Linked DNA regions of Homo sapiens. The protein of the gene in region 4 purifies or fractionates together with the protein of the main gene of each other region. This does not show direct contact. Each region holds a gene or a part of one and is shown on either strand. Other genes may lie near its edges.

What was found. Proteins that work in one complex are often made in the same cells at the same time.
Region 1: the proteins of MFN1 (region 4) and SLC25A38 purify together in Homo sapiens (affinity purification with western blotting; one study listed by BioGRID). This does not show direct contact.
Region 2: the proteins of MFN1 (region 4) and SYAP1 purify together in Homo sapiens (affinity purification with mass spectrometry; one large-scale study listed by BioGRID and IntAct). This does not show direct contact.
Region 3: the proteins of MFN1 (region 4) and CA10 purify together in Homo sapiens (co-immunoprecipitation; one large-scale study listed by IntAct). This does not show direct contact.

Annotation. Positions count from the first base shown.
Region 1 is NC_000003.12:39,381,875-39,386,169, reverse strand, and holds the start of SLC25A38 (mitochondrial glycine transporter), read right to left. Parts: upstream 2,801-4,295; 5' UTR 2,446-2,800; coding exon 2,377-2,445; intron 1,930-2,376; exon of another isoform or gene 1,845-1,929; intron 1,736-1,844; exon of another isoform or gene 1-1,735. UniProt on the Homo sapiens protein: Mitochondrial glycine transporter that imports glycine into the mitochondrial matrix.
Region 2 is NC_000023.11:16,761,112-16,764,611, reverse strand, and holds part of SYAP1 (synapse-associated protein 1), read right to left. Parts: 3' UTR 1-3,500.
Region 3 is NC_000017.11:51,634,215-51,637,714, reverse strand, and holds part of CA10 (carbonic anhydrase-related protein 10 precursor), read left to right. Parts: intron 1-1,705; coding exon 1,706-1,860; intron 1,861-3,500. UniProt on the Homo sapiens protein: Does not have a catalytic activity.
Region 4 is NC_000003.12:179,346,317-179,350,508, reverse strand, and holds the start of MFN1 (mitofusin-1), read right to left. Parts: upstream 2,801-4,192; 5' UTR 2,699-2,800; intron 1,665-2,698; 5' UTR 1,658-1,664; coding exon 1,546-1,657; intron 1-1,545. UniProt on the Homo sapiens protein: Mitochondrial outer membrane GTPase that mediates mitochondrial clustering and fusion. Membrane clustering requires GTPase activity. It may involve a major rearrangement of the coiled coil domains.

The DNA.
Region 1 (4,295 bases), about 140 Mb from region 4:
AAAATACAAGTAATGACAAATGTATTAGGAGCTACAGAGTATCCCACAAATTTGTCATTAATACTAATTGAATTATAATTTTAAAAAACCCAACCAAACCAATACCCTTTAATTGGTTCATATTCCTCTCAGGATAAAGTCCAAACTGCTGGTTGCAGGGCCTTTCATGTATCACAGGGCTCCTGCTAACCGTTTTGGCCTATGTTCTCACCCTCCCACTAACACACTCTGCAGCCATACTGGAGGACTCCGCCTTACTTTCACCTCTGAAAACTCTGACATGTTGTTATGCCCTAGCACCGGTCTTGCTCCCTAACTCCCCCATGTCCAAGTTCAGTGCCTCTCCTTCCGGCTTCTACAGCAACACCTGTCCCCATCTCCCTTATGACTGCGTGTCAAAGACAGAATAGTCACAACTCCTGCCTGTCTTGTTCATGGTGATATCTCAAGAACTGACCTCGGAGCCTGGTGCACAGTAGGTGTTCAGCAGTGACAGCGGAATGAATCTTACCACCTAACAGGAAACCTTATGCTCTCCCTTTGAGCACAATCCCACATGATAGGGCTCGGTGGGCCCTGCATGACTCATCCCAGGATGGGTTAATCTCCCCCACCTCTCTCCAGGCCCCTTGCTCCAGCAAGGCTATAGGAATGACCTGCAGTTAGTTTCTGGGCAGTTATGTTAGGCGCTGCTTCCCCAGTGCTCACACAGGTGCTGTGTGGAATTTGTTTTAAAACAAATTTGCTGCTGTCCTTGACCTTCCCACCCTTGATTGCAGGAAATATCTTCTTAACGTCTTTTATTTCACAGCACAGTGATTAGACATGTTATTGGCTCAAGTTATTGAGCCAATAACTTTTTTAGCTTTGTACTTTTCCCAGTCCATTAGCACAGAGCAGATGTTATTTATACTAGCAGTATAGATCAACTTCTAATAGGCAAAAACAAGACAACAACAACAACAAAAACCATCCCAACAGGTAATACTGAATGGTCTTAAGATTTTTGTCAATGGTGAATGGCACACATCCTTTGCGAGTGAACTTAACTTTTAAAAAGTAGCTCAAGGCCAAGCGCGGTGGCTCACACTTGTAATCCTAGCACTTTAGGAGGCCGAGGCAGACGGATCACTTGAGGTCAGGAGTTCAAGACCAGCCTGGCCAACATGGTGAAACCCTCTCTCTACTAAAAATACAAAAACTAGCCGGGCGTGGTGGCGCACGCCTGTAATCCCAGCAACGTGGGAGACTGAGACAGGAAAAATACTTGAACCCGGGAGTCAGAGGTTGCAGTTGAGCCGAGATCACGCCACTGCACTCCAGCGCGGGCGACAGGGCGAGACTCTGTCTCAAAAAAAAAAAAAAAGAAAAAAGAAAAGAAAGCTCAAAAATATATTCAAGGTAAATAAAAAAGTAGTTTCTTTTTAAGGGGAGAAAGAAGAGGGCATAAACAATAATACGCACACGAAATAAGTAGCACATAAGAGTACAAACTGGATCCACAAGCAATTCCTACTGCCCTGAAAAAACTATCCTAAGTCCAATTCACATCTGGAGGCGAGGGCTGGAGAGCCCTGAAAAAGGTAAGCAGGTTTTCAAAGACGTCAACGTAAAGTCGCCACCGCCGCCGTCTCCGCCTTTAAGGATTAAAAAAAAAAATAAAAGCCGCCCCTACCTCGGGCGCAAGACCTCAGAGGGAGAGCTGCGGCAGCTGCAGTGGCCTCAGGCCTTTAGCGTCTAAAGACTGGTTGCACCCCGACTCCACCTACCGGGCAACCACGCCGCCAGCCCCGCCTCCGCCTCCACCAATAGCGGCCCGGCGGCCCGGGCACGATGACCAATCGAACGCCGGAGGAGGCGTGGCGTCGCTGGGGGACCACGCGCCGTCCCAACAGGCTGGAAGGGTGCCGCCACGACTGGCCCCTCCAGGTAGGCCGCCGCCCGCGGGCGCACAGCGCTACCCGGCCAGCTCGCTGCGGCATCAACGGCTTCTCAGCGTCAGCGCTATTATCAGGCCTTGTGACCGTCCCAAATCTGCCCGGGTGCCCTTCCACCTGGCAGCCTACTCGCACCTTGTGGGGGCCGCGCGGGCACACTCCCCGGCACGCGTCCAGTCCAGGCCCCGGCAATTCCGCCCTTTACCGGGACATCGGCCCTACAGCGCCTGCCCCCAGGGCTGGCCTGCAGCTCCTGGCCTCTCCTCACTCCCTGCCCCCTTCTCAATTCCCTTAGTCAGACTCCTCTCCCGCCGCATCCTAAATCCTGAGCGCACCCTGGGGCGCGGAAAAGGGTAGCCGAGCCTTAGCAACGCCCCGAATTCTCCGGCCCGAGCCCGCGGTTCGGACCCCTGCCCTTCCTTCCCCGCAGTGCCCTCACCATAAGCGTTTCCACCGTGTCTCCGACATCTTGGGGTTGCAGCAGCGACGGACGTGAGTTCTGAATCATTGGAGATGAGGCCCGCGAGTCCTCTGGGCCCAGGGTGCCGTCGACGGGCGCTTGGGCCCAGCCCTGGAGGCCTTGAAGAAGGCTAGGGGGTGGCGCTAGCCAGGCGACGCGCTTTAAGCCGCGGGCTCTCTGACGTCTGCGCCTATAAGCACGCAGCCGCCGGGGTTCGGATCCTGCTAGTCCAGGGGCTGCGGGCGCGGAACAATCTTGCTGCGGGAATTACGCGCCGCTCTTCACCCGCGCCGCAGACTCCGCGGCTCTGCTCTCCTGCCCATCCTGCCCTGCTGCAGGCTTCAGCACCGTAGGAGATGAGGTTCTGTGTATCCCGGGGTGGAGGAAGCGCCGGAGGAACTCTGTAGAAGGGGAGATTTCGCTTCCGGGTGGGACGCTTGTCACGTGAGGGTGTTCTGAGTGCCACCTGGTGAAAACGCCCAGAACTGAAGGATCCGCGCTTCCTTGCACCCAGAACTTAATGGAGCGTCTGCAGGGAACTTTGCTTTTGCGTGGAACGTCTGAACGTATTTACAATCCAGACCTGGTCTGCCCAGTAAGGCAGCCACTAGCCAACGTGGGCTATTGATTTATTAATTGATACATTAATTTTAATTATATTAAAACAAGCAGTGTGGAATGCTTTCTCCTTAAACAGGCGTTTTTTTGTTTTGTTGTTTTTTTTTCAGGACCATATTTCCCTTTAAATGCTGAAAATTTAGTGTGGAATTGATATGTACTGTATGCATAAACCACACGCTGGATGTCTAAGACTGGTGAGGTAAAATCTCAATAATTTTTATATGTTGAAATGATATTTTGGATATATTGGGTTAGGTGAAATATTAAAATTAACTTCAGGCCGGGGGCAGTGGCCCAGGCCTGTAATCTCAGCACTTTGTGAGGCCTAGTCTGGAGGATTGCTTGAGGGAGCCAAGGAGTTGGAGACCAGCGTGGACGACAAAGCAAGACCCCGTCTCTAAAACAAATAATAATAACTTCATGTGTTTCTTTTTAAATGTGGCTAGTAAAACATTTAAACTTTAACATGTGGCTCCCATTACATTTCTGTAGGACAGCGCTGGTCTAGTTGGTCAAAATTCTGGTTTATTGCTCACCTGGAATCTGTCAATGGCTTTTTTGGTCTCCCAACTTCCCCTTATGCCTGTCTGGCTGATCCATGGAAAAGCATTACTGCTGGGATCCTGACACTCCTGTTGAAAATGCAGTGGCCCTGGTAATAAAGTCCAAGCTTTTCATAGCAACCTTCGCTACTTTCCACCTTCATTCATCACCCAAGAACTAGATCAGAAAGGAAAGTGACTTAGGGAGCAAGATAATATTTTTTCAGGCTTCATTCCTGTGCTTCTGAGGTACATAGAACAGGAAGGAAAGTGGTCCCAGAGGAGGTTATTCCCAGAAAGGATTAAGGAAAGTATAAACATTAAAAAAAAAAAAAAAATTACAGGCCGGGTGCGGTGGCTCACGCCTGTAATCCCAGCACTTTGGGAGGCCGAGGCGAGCCGATCACGAGGTCAGGAGATCGAGACCATCCTGGCTAACATGGTGAAATCCCGTCTCTGCTAAAAATATAGCCGGGTGTGGTGGCAGGCGCCTGTAGTCCCAGCTACTCGGGAGGCTGAAGCAGGAGAATGGCGTGAACCCAGGAAGTGGAGCTTGCAGTGGGCCGAGATCGTGCCACTGCACTGCAGCCTGGGCGACAGAGCGAGACTCCATCTCAAAAAACAAAACGAAACAAAATTACAAACCTGCCTGGTGATTGAATACTTTGCTACCCTTTGTTCTAAGCTGCAAGGCTTATTTTTCTTTGTGCAGTAGTGATGTTGATAACTATGCAC
Region 2 (3,500 bases), on a different chromosome or scaffold from region 4:
GGTGGGCGGATCACCTGAGGCCAGTCGTTCAAGACCAGCCTGGCCAACATGGTGAAACCCCGTCTCTACTAAAAATACAAAAATTAGCCAGGTGTGGTGGCACACGCCTGTAATCCCAGCTACTCGGGAGGCTGAGGCAGGAGAATCACTTGAACCCAGGAGGCGGAGGTTGCAGTGAGCCGAGGTTGCGGCCACTGCACTCCAGCCAGGGCAACAGAGTGAGCCTCCATCTCAAAAAAAAAAAAAAAGAAAAAAAAAAAAGTTGAAAAACTAAATTTGCTAAAATTAAATGTGCCTAATTTTCCTAATTAAAAAATGTTTATCTTTACTTAAAAATGGAGGGGGGTATCTATTACTAGAAAGAGTAACTATATAAAATTATTTGAATTATTGATGCACATTCAGAGTCCTGGTTTTTAATACCAAAAAGCCATTAAGGTTGGGCGCAGTGGCTCACGCCTGTAATCCCAGCACTTTGGGAGGCCGAGGCGGGCGGATCACCTGAGGTTGGGAGTTCAAGACCAGCCTGACCAACATGGCGAAACCCTGTCTCTACTAAAAATACAAAAATTAGCCGGGTGTGGTGGCACATGCCTATAATCCCAGCTACTAGGGAGGCTGAGGCAGGAGAACTGCCTGAACCCGGGAGCCGGAGGTTTGCAGTGAGCTGAGACTGCGCCATTGCATTCCAGCCCAGGCAACAGTGTGAGACTCTGTCTCAAAAAAAAAAAAAAAAAAAAAGCCGTCAAAGAGGCAAATAAAATACTGCAAGTCAGACATAATCATAAGATTTCTGCTGAAACCTTTTAAATGTCCTGAAATCCTATTTTTAACAATATTTTGATTAAAGCAAATCATCTTGATTACAATAGTGCATCTTAAATCACTGGGAGTACAAGTGTAATTGCTGCTTTATCTCTGAAACAATGTTTCTCTAGTTTTTTTTTCAAAAATTACCAATTAAGGCTGTGGCTCATGCCTGTAATCCCAACACTTTGGGAGGTCAAGGCGTGCGGATCATTTGAGATCAGGAGCTTGAGACCAGCCTGGCCAACACGGTGAAACCCCATCTCTGCTAAAAATACAAAAAAATTAGCTGGGCATGGTGGCGGTTGCCTGTAATCCCAGCTACTCTGGAGGCTGAGGTGGGAGAATCGCTTGAACTTGGGAGGCGGAGGTTGCCGTGAGCTGAGATCAAGCCACTGCACTCCAGCCTGGGTGACAGAGCAAGATTCTGTCTCCAAGAAAAAAAAACAAACAAAAAAAGAAATGCCCGATTTACCAAGAATATTTCTCATCCCCCTAAAAACTTGCCCCCCCTCCCTTTTTTGAAACAGAGTCTCTGTCACCCAGGCTGAAGTGCAGTGGCATGATCATGGCTTACTGCAGCCTGGATCTCCTGGGCTCAAGCGATCCTCCTGCCTCAGCCTTCCAAGTAGCTAGGACCACAGGTGTGGGCTACCACACCTGGCTCATTTGTATTTTTGTAGAGGCAGGGGTCTCCCTATGTTGCCCAGGCTGGTCTTGAACTCCTGAGCTCAAGCAATCTGCCTGCCTCAGCCTCCCAAAGTGCTGGGATTACAGGTGTGAACCACCATGCCCAGCCCTTGGGTCTTTTTAATTTTGGTAGTATAGAAATAACTGGAACCTCAGAGGAGACACCTGTAATGCCAACTAGAAAAACACTGCTGCAAAGGACATCTAGTGGAAGGGTAAAAAGTAAAAAGCAGTAGAAACCTCAGCTTCCCTGAGAGCATATTAGACCAGTGCTTCCCAAACTGTAAATAAAGTCCATTCTCATCCCCTGGGCGTTCTTAGTAACATCAACTGGTCTGGGGCAGGCATTTCCAACATACTGCCAGGGCATGGCCAAGCTACACTGGTTCCTGAGCCACACTCTTTGAGTAGTGAGGCATAATCTCCATAGTGTGATGTTCATATTTTAGCATTTTATTAAGTTTTACAGGTTTTCATGCTTGGTATATCTTGTTGGCTAACCCCTAGGCATGTAATAAATACTTAGAAATTTTCCACCAAACATGGTGATAAATTATTTTGCTCTTTAAAGGAATAACACTTCAGTTACCTATATAATTTACTAAAGCAGAACATTTTACTCCTTGATGAATCCATAAAAATACAGCACAACTGTATTCTTACAGTATGTACAAAATCTTATTTTATCCTTTTATTTTCACAGGCAATGCATAATTAGGTTGTTTTTAAATGAGATATTATGTAAAATTGATAGCAATAACTGTCACACACCTCTATTGCCATTGTAGGGTTTTTCTCTTTCTCTGATACTTTTTTGTGTGTGTTTATTCAACATTTATCAATAAGAATTTTAGTGCATTCACTAAGAGCCAAGCACCGACACATCCTGATATGCTTCCATCTAGGACTTTTAGCTGCTTAAAAACATTTAACATGCTTCTTTTCCTCCAGCAAACTCTTTTAAAAAAAAAATGAAACTCTTTCCTTCAATGAGATTATTTCAGAAGTTGCCAGTCATCTTGGAACCCAAACTCAGTAATAAGCAACTGTGGCACCACAAGTGGAAACCTTTTGATGATGGGCCCAGTGGTTTCATGGAATACACGGGTTTACTGCTATAACCCAAGAGACTCCAGTTGAGACAGTCTGGCTCAGACACATGCATCCACAACTATGAACAGGAGTAATGCCTGGACTCATACCCAGTTCTCTTGTTGACTATATCTTTGCCAAAGGACTACTGACTAGTTTTAATGGGGCCAAGAACACAAATATGTATATTTTTCTTATAAAGAAACATTTTAATTCTATTCCCCTTTATGTAATAAAGGCTTCTTGAAAAACATGAAAGGTTTGGGGAGCAAATGCTTAGGAAGTTTTCTGACATTAAACCACCTTGTTCGTTCGTTCATTCATTCATTCATTCATTCATTCATTTTTGAGACGGAGTCTCTCACTCTGTCACCCAGGCTGGAGTGCAGTGGCGTGATCTCAGCTCACTGCAACCTCCATCTCCCAGGTTCAAGCAATTCTCCTGCCTCAGCCTCCTCACCTTGTTCTTTAAAAATAATCATATTCTATGAATATGTGTCTGCTGGTATAGCAGAAAGAGAAGGATTAATCAATAAAGTCCTAGAAGGTGAACTCGGAGGAACACAATTTTATGAAGACTCACAGTTTAAGACAAAGCTAAAACATTTATATGTGGTGATGATTAAAACAAGAACAACAGACTTTAAGGGGAATGGGCTTCTGAAGGTTATTGTAATACAAAAAGTATGGAAGGTCCCACTTTGTATAAAAACTGTGATGTAAAATTTCTGGTATAGTTTAAAAAGAAAAGAAAGAAAAGGCCCCAGAGAAAAACAAATATTTTCGCACAGCTTTTTTTTTTTTTTTTTTTTGAGACTGAATCTCACTCTATCACCCAGGCTGGAGTGCAGTGGCGCGATCTCAGCTCGCTGCAACCTCTGCCTCCTGGGTTCAAAAGCCTCCCTAGTAGC
Region 3 (3,500 bases), on a different chromosome or scaffold from region 4:
CTTGTCAGTGGAGGATGTTACTATCTGCCTGACTCATTTTATTGAGTCAATGTGAGGTTCCAGCCATATGTGAAAGTCTTCCTTTACCATATATGTGCACAATACTAAACTGAAGAGGTTCCCTCAACCCCTGAAGAATGAGTACTTTCCCACTGGGAGTTAGACACATGGACGAGAGAACATGTGTGCATCCATGGGGCTGGAGAGTCAGTCTCATCCCTCGGCCAGCCAGGCTTTGGGACCCTGCCATGTGTTCTCCAGGTCTCCTGGACTGGCCACAGTGATGGGTGCTCATGGTATGCCTGGGGATGTGATACCTCTAGAGATATAGATCTGGAATCACTGGGATGCAGAAGGCAAGTGAAGCCATGGATGTAGATGAGCTACTCTCAGATGAGAGGATAGAGTAAGAAAAGAAGGGAGCCTTGGACTGATCTTTGGGGAATTGCATCATTGAGAGAAGCAGGTAGAAGATCAGGAGACAGCAACAAAACCTGAGAGAGAATGGCCAGAAAAATGGGAATACTAAGTATGGTATTTTTGAAGCCAGCAGAAGAGAACAATCACGTGCTAAAAGAAAGGAAGAAGGATCATGAAGAGGGGAGAAGAGGAGAGATACATTGCAATTAACTGATATTTTAAAACTCCAATACACACAATTTTATCAAAAATACAACCAATACATTGACTAAAAAAATTAACAGGAAACACACCAAAATGCTAATAGTAACAGTTTTAGATGACTGAAATTGTTTTTTCTTTTTTCCATATAGTCTGTGATGTACTTATGTCATTTTTACCATTGAATTACTGTATTTAGTAATAGAAGATATATGGGTATGAATACCTCAAATTGGTGTAAGAGAAAAGGCTATCTGCATAGACCTGAGAGAGAGAAAAATACACACACACACACACACACACACACACACACACACAAAATAATCAGTTGTTGAGCTTAACCATAGAATCTCATGGTAGGATTTGGCCTGATTTACTTTTCTATCCAAAAATATTTTCTTATTGTTGTTTTAAGTGAGAATGGTCACCAGGTGAATTTCAACAGGTCTAGAAGCTTTAATTGTCCATCTCATGATACCTGTAATGCCTAGGAGTCCAGATCTCAGGGACTAGAATCAAGGACTCCTCAAACAATCCCTGTGGTAGAACGCATTGCTTACAGCTCACCAATGCTCAGGGCCCCATCCTGTGGAAGGAATGTGCTTCCTCGCATCCCCAACATCAGCCTTAACCATGTGACTTCTTTGGCTACCAAAACATGAGCACAAGTGATGTGTGCCACTTCTGGGATGGAAGTTTTAAGAACCAACACACATTCGCCATGCTTTCGCTTCTGTCACTGTGATCCGCACAGGTCCAGGTGTTTACTGCTCTAAGAGTCTAGGTCCCAAAGCATGGACAATGACATGGAGGGAAGCCTCAGCCAACCTGGAATGATCATGTGTGTGAGCAAGAAATACATTCTTATTGCTTAAAACAACCGAGATCTGGGGGACAACTGCTTGTTACTGCAGCCTGTTCTGACAGATAGAGTCTTCTGGAATTCCAAAAGAAATACATATATATCTGTGTGTGTATATATGTATGTATATGTATATGTATATGTATGTATGTATGTATGTATGTCAGCAATACCATCCCTTTCTCAAGAAACCTAATTTTTAAGTCTTCTTTCCTTCTCTAGATGATGCATATTTACTACAGGGGCTTAATATAGAGGAACTATATCCAGAGACCTCTAGTTTCATCACTTACGATGGGTCGATGACTATCCCACCCTGCTATGAGACAGCAAGTTGGATCATAATGAACAAACCTGTCTATATAACCAGGATGCAGGTGAGTTTCTCTCTGGTCATTTAGCTAATGGAGAAGAATGATGTTAAAAAAAAATCACTGAAATGTGGAGTGCCTATTATAATAGTTTACTAGGACCACTATAACAAAGTCCCACAAACTGGGTAGTTTAAACTAACACAAACTTATCGCCTCACAGTTCTGGAGACTAGAAGTCCAAGATCAAGGTGTCAGCAGCGTTGCTTCCTTCAGCGGAATGTGAGGAAGAATCTGTTCCATGCCTCTCCCCTAGCTTCTAGTGGTTTGCTGACAATCTTTGACGTGCTTTGGCATTTAAAAGCACCACCCCAAGCTCTACCTCCATCTTTTTTTTTTTCTTTTTTGAGATGGAGTCTCGCTCTTGTCACCCAGGCTGGAGTGCAGTGGCGTGATCTTGGCTCACTGCAACTTCCACCTCCTGGGTTCAAGCGATTCTTGTGCCTCAGCCTCCTGAGTAGCTGGGATTACAGACACGTGCCACCACGCCCGGCTAATTTTTATACTTTTAGTAGAGATGGGGTTTCATCATGTTGGCCAGGCTGGTCTTGAACTCCTGACCTCAGGTAATCCATTTGCCTCGACCTCCCAAAGTGCTGGGATTACAGGCGTGAGCCACCACACCCAGCCTCTACCTCCATCTTTATAAGGTGTTCTCCCTGTGTCTGAGGCTCTGTGTCCAAATTTCCCCTTTTTATAAAGGCACCTTCTGTATTCCATTAAAGCCTAACCCCAATAAGCTTGTCTTAGCTCATTCCATCTGCAATGACTATTTCCAAATAAGGTCACATTCTGAGCAACTAGGGGTTACCAGTACCTTCAGCTTATGAATTTCAGGGGTACACGATTCAACCCATATGCCTGGGTTTAAAGAGCCAGCATCCAAAAGGCTTAGCCTGAGCTAATTATAGAAGCATCTCAACTGTCTCAGTGGGAAAAGATAGCCATTAATTCCCAGAGTGTATTCTACAACTACAGTGTTCAGAAAGCAAGCAAGCAAAATGGAAGATGTCATTATGCATTTGAAAAAGTTGGGTTTTAAAAAGTTAAATAGATTCCATTGTTGAAGGATTTCTGGGGTCCTTCTTAAATGCTAATATATGTGTCAGTCTTCAAGAGGAAGTGGTATGATATGTAGTATTTTGCACACATATTTGAATGTGCAGTGTTTTTTTTGGATCATCTCACAGAGTTAGTACTCATCAGAACTGGATGGGAGGCAGATGGGTCCTCCTGTGTGAGCTTGGCTACACGGCTTATTGTGCTCTTCAGGCCTGTCACCCACCTCTATGAAATGAACACTCCTCTTCTTTATTGAGAGGGGGATAAATTACATGAGTTTGCTCCAGCTCTGACATTCTACGACTGTGGGAGTCTATAACAAATTAAAGGAGAGATGAGCAAAGGAAGCAGAAGCCAATATCCTTGACGGGATATGTGTTCCCACCTGACCACCATTTGAACAATTTGAAGTTCCTTAACCTATCTGTATTGAATGGGACCCACTGGGTGACAGGCAACAGTAACTCCCCACTTAAGCTTAGAAAAAGCATTTATTTGAGAGCTACGAGGGCATCTTAGAGAATTTAAAATCAGAAATTGACATCAGAAATTCACTGAAATGGGAACCCCAGAAGTGCTTTCTC
Region 4 (4,192 bases):
ACAATACACATTTAACTTCATTTTCACTTCCTATTATTTTTAGAAAAAAAAATATTTTTAAAAAGTCAACTGTGCCAGCTCAAATTATTTCCTAATTGGAAACAAAGATTCTATACTACTATTTTTTTTTTCTCATTCAGCATTGAATTGTGTCAAGTCTGGTGCTAGGAATACAATGAATCCCAGGCTCCTGCCCTAAAGGAGCTCAAAATATGGTAAGAGAGGGTTGGGAGAGACATGAAAAAAAAAGTTTGATTCCCAATCTACCAAAGGTTTCCCCACTGTCGCTGGAAAAATTTACAGAATCCCTCCCTTTCCATTGTATAGTTGAGAGGTGCATAATCTTTTTTTTTTTTTGAAATGGAGTCTCACTCTGTCACCCAGGCTGGAGTGCAGTGGGCGACTTCGGTTCACTGCAACCTCTGCCTCCCAGGTTCAAGCGATTCTCCCTCCTCGAGCCTCCTGAGTAGCTAGGATTACAGGCGTCTGCCACCAGGCCCAGCTAATTTTTGTATTTTTAGTACAGACAGGGTTTCACCATGTTGATCAGGCTGGTCTTGAACTCCTAACCTCAGGTAATCTGCCGATCTTGGACTCCCAAAGTGCTGGGATTACAGGTGTGAGTCAGGGCGCCTGGCCGAGAGGTACATAATCTTAAGAACCAGAAAAAATTTCAACAGTTATCTCCAAAGAAGGATTCCTGGCCGGGTGTGGTGGCTCACACCTGTAATCCCAGCACTTTGGGAGGCCAAGAGAGGTGATCATGGGGTCAGGAGTTCGAGACCAGCCTGGCCAATATGGTGAAACCCTGTCTCTACTAAAAACACAAAAATTAGTCAGGCATGGTGGCACGTGCACTGTAGTCCCATTTACTTGGGAGGCTGAGGCAGAAGAATCGCTTGAACCCAGGAAGTGGAGGCTGCAGTGAGCCAAGAACATGCCACTGCACTCCAGCCTGGGCAACAAGACAAGACTCTGTCTCAAAAAAAAAAAAAAGAAGTATTCCCTAGTAAGACATGACATTCCTCATCACCTTTAACAGTTATGAAACTCCTTTTTCCCCCTTTCCACTGCAATTCAGCCTCATTTGAGAGAATGAGATATGTCTGAGGTCTTGGCTTAACTGCTAAATTGGGGAGGAGACAAGTATAATGGTTAAATGTGGACTGCCTGATTTTTTGTCTGGGCACTTATTAGCTGTGTGATCTTGGGCAAACTGTTTAACTTTTCTTTGACTTCGTCTCTTCATCTTTAAAATGACAGATGGTGGTGATGAAAATTAAATGAACTATTAACATAGCTATTTCTCATCACCTAGTGGTGATGAAAATTAAATGAGCTATTAATATACTAAAGTTCTTAGTTGTTATTAATACCATTTAATTTTCCCCTTCTGGAGGTTAGAAAGGGGTTTTATTCATTATGGTACTTCTCATAGTATACAGTATAATGCCCTATACATGTGTTCAATAACTAACGTTGAAAGAATAAGCACTTTTATATATTTTCAACAGTAATTACTTTAAAAACTTAAGAAGAACTAACCTTCAACAAAATGTGATCCTTCAGTAACAAACTCCAGTAACTGGTCAAAGATTGCAGTAATCGCCTTCTTAGCCAGCACAAAGTGCTTCAGTGGAGAAACAGGTTCTGCCATTATGCTACTAGAGGGAGATAAAGTTAGAAAAGCACCAACTAAAGTGGATGATAGACATGCAAACTGATGACACACCAGTGACATTCATCAACTCCCCAATGAAATAAATTATGCTGGCAAAATGTTTTTAGGTAATTCTTTTTTGGGAGTGTTCTAGTCAGACAGTTAGAGACGACTTTTGAATGATATTTCACTAAAATAAGTGAAATCTATTAGCCAAAATCTTGGTTGCAATTTCTACTCAATTTCCCTTTGGTGAAGACGAAACTAATTGTGACTAAGTTTGTCACTGCATGTGACTCTAAAGTACATCAGGGAACAGGGTTAGTGAGGCGAAGCCAAATTCACACACAATAAGGAAGTTACTAAGTTTCTCAACCTGAAGCTCTAGGTGAGTAGGAGTGGATATGCAGAGTGAGGAAATAAAATTCTAAGATCACAATGTGAGGCTGACATTTAGAAAGGTAAGGCTTCAAGAGGGCATTAACGCTTCCAGCCAAAGTACCAGAAACTTCAAGGACTATAAGTTTAAGAAAGCATAGGTGGTTTCTCAAGAAAAAGACACCAAAGACAAACAATCACGGTCTAATCCTGGTGTGTACATGGAAAGGAACAGTGGCCATAAAGAAGGCGGATTCTTCCAGAGAGTCAAGAAATGACCGCGCGAAGGAGCTGCGTGGGAAAAGCCGGGTGGGGGTAACGCCCCGGTCCGGCCGGTGTGAACACCTGCCTTAGAAAAGGCCTCCCACCTTCCCACACCGGGCGCAGGAGTCAGGGCCAGAGCCCACCCCCGCCCCGCGCACGACCGTCTAGGTCCGGATCCCCCAATCCCACCCCCGAGCACGGCCTCGTGGGCTCCGTGGGCTCGACTCGGCCGCCAGCCCCGTTCGCCCGACAGCTGGCTCTCTCCTTTCCCACAGGACCGCGGCGGGCGGCGCCTCGTCACACAACGCTGCATGCACGACTCCCGCCCCCGGTCCCCAGTCGCTCGAAGGTCACTCCGAGCGTCGCAAACGTGCTGTCGAGGCAGCCGGCACTCACAGTCTCCGCTCCAACTATCACCCGGCAACAGCAACTCGGCCACAGATGCCAAACTGCCTCATCTTCCCGAGAAGTTAAAGGCGGAGAGGAGGCAGGGGGAGTGGCAAAGGGCGGTCACTTCCGGCCTCTTGCCTCCTCTGTTCTGTTTGGCTCCGTGGCCGGAAGCGCATCTATGCCAGGCGCCATTTTCCTTAAGGGCAGAAGGCAAGGTTTGTTGTGGGCAGAGACTGCTACCAGGAGAGTGGTTTTCCGTTCCCCCTTCCAACTTCTTCCCCTCCCTTCTCCCCTCAAAGTGTCCAAGTATCTGCCCAGCCTAGGCTTAGCTAGCTTCCAATGATGGTGGTGGCTGACGCCTATAATCCCAGCACTTTGGGAGACCGAAGGGGTGGGATATCTCTTAAGCCCAGGAGTTCGAGACTAGGCTGGGCAACATAGGGAGGCGCCCCCCCCCCCGCCCCCGACCCTCTTCCTCCTCCCCGTCTCTACAAAATTAAAAAATGAAAAATTAAAAAAATTTTAAAAACTTAGCGAGGCGTGGTGGCACACACCTGTGGTCCCAGCTACTTCGGAGACTGAGGCGGGGGGATTGTTTGGGCCCGGGGCTGCAGCGAACTGTGATTTATCGTGCCACTGCACTCCAGCCTGGGCAAGAGAGCGAGACATTTTTTCAAATAAATAAATAAATAAATAAAAGAAAAGAAATCCAGATCGTATTACTTTCCGAACTTAAAAAGCTTTCCAGGCCGGGCGGGGTGGCTCACGCCTGTAATCCCAGCACTTTGGGAGGCCGAGGCGGGCGGATCACAAGGTCAGGAGATCGGGAGCATCCTGGCTAACACGGTGAACGCCCGTCTCTACTAAAAATACAAGAAGTAGCCGGGCGTGGTGGTGGCGGGCGCCTGTAGTTCCAGCTACTCAGGAGCCTGAGGCAGAGAATTGCTTGAACCCGGGAGGCGGAGGTTACAGTGAGCCGAGATCGCGCCACTGCACTCCAGCCTGGGCGACAGAGCCAGACTCCATCTCAAAAAAAAAAAAAAAAAAAAAAAAAAAAAAAAAAAAGCTTTCCAACAGCTTGCCATTATACTTAAAATTAAAGCTTCGGATGGTAACCGCCCAAGGAAAGCCTTCACCTTGCCCGCTGACTAGCCAGAACTGATACAAGACAGGGGGATTGCAAATAAAGACTTAGTCACGCAAAGCCGGCTGTATGGGAGACTGGAGTTTTATTATTACTGAAATCAGTCTCCCCGAGCAGCACTGGGGAGCAGAATTTTTAAGGACAATTTGGTGGGTTGGGGGAGGCCACTGAGCCAGGAGTGCTGATTGGTCAGGGATGAAATCGCAGGGAGTGGAAGCTGTCTTTCTGCACGAGTCAGTTCCTGGGTTGGGGGACACTAGGTCAGATGAGCCAGTTTATCGGTCTGGGTCGTGCCAGCTAATCCATCAGTTCTGAGCATAGGTAGTCTCAAAGGGAACATTTACTCTGTTTGAATT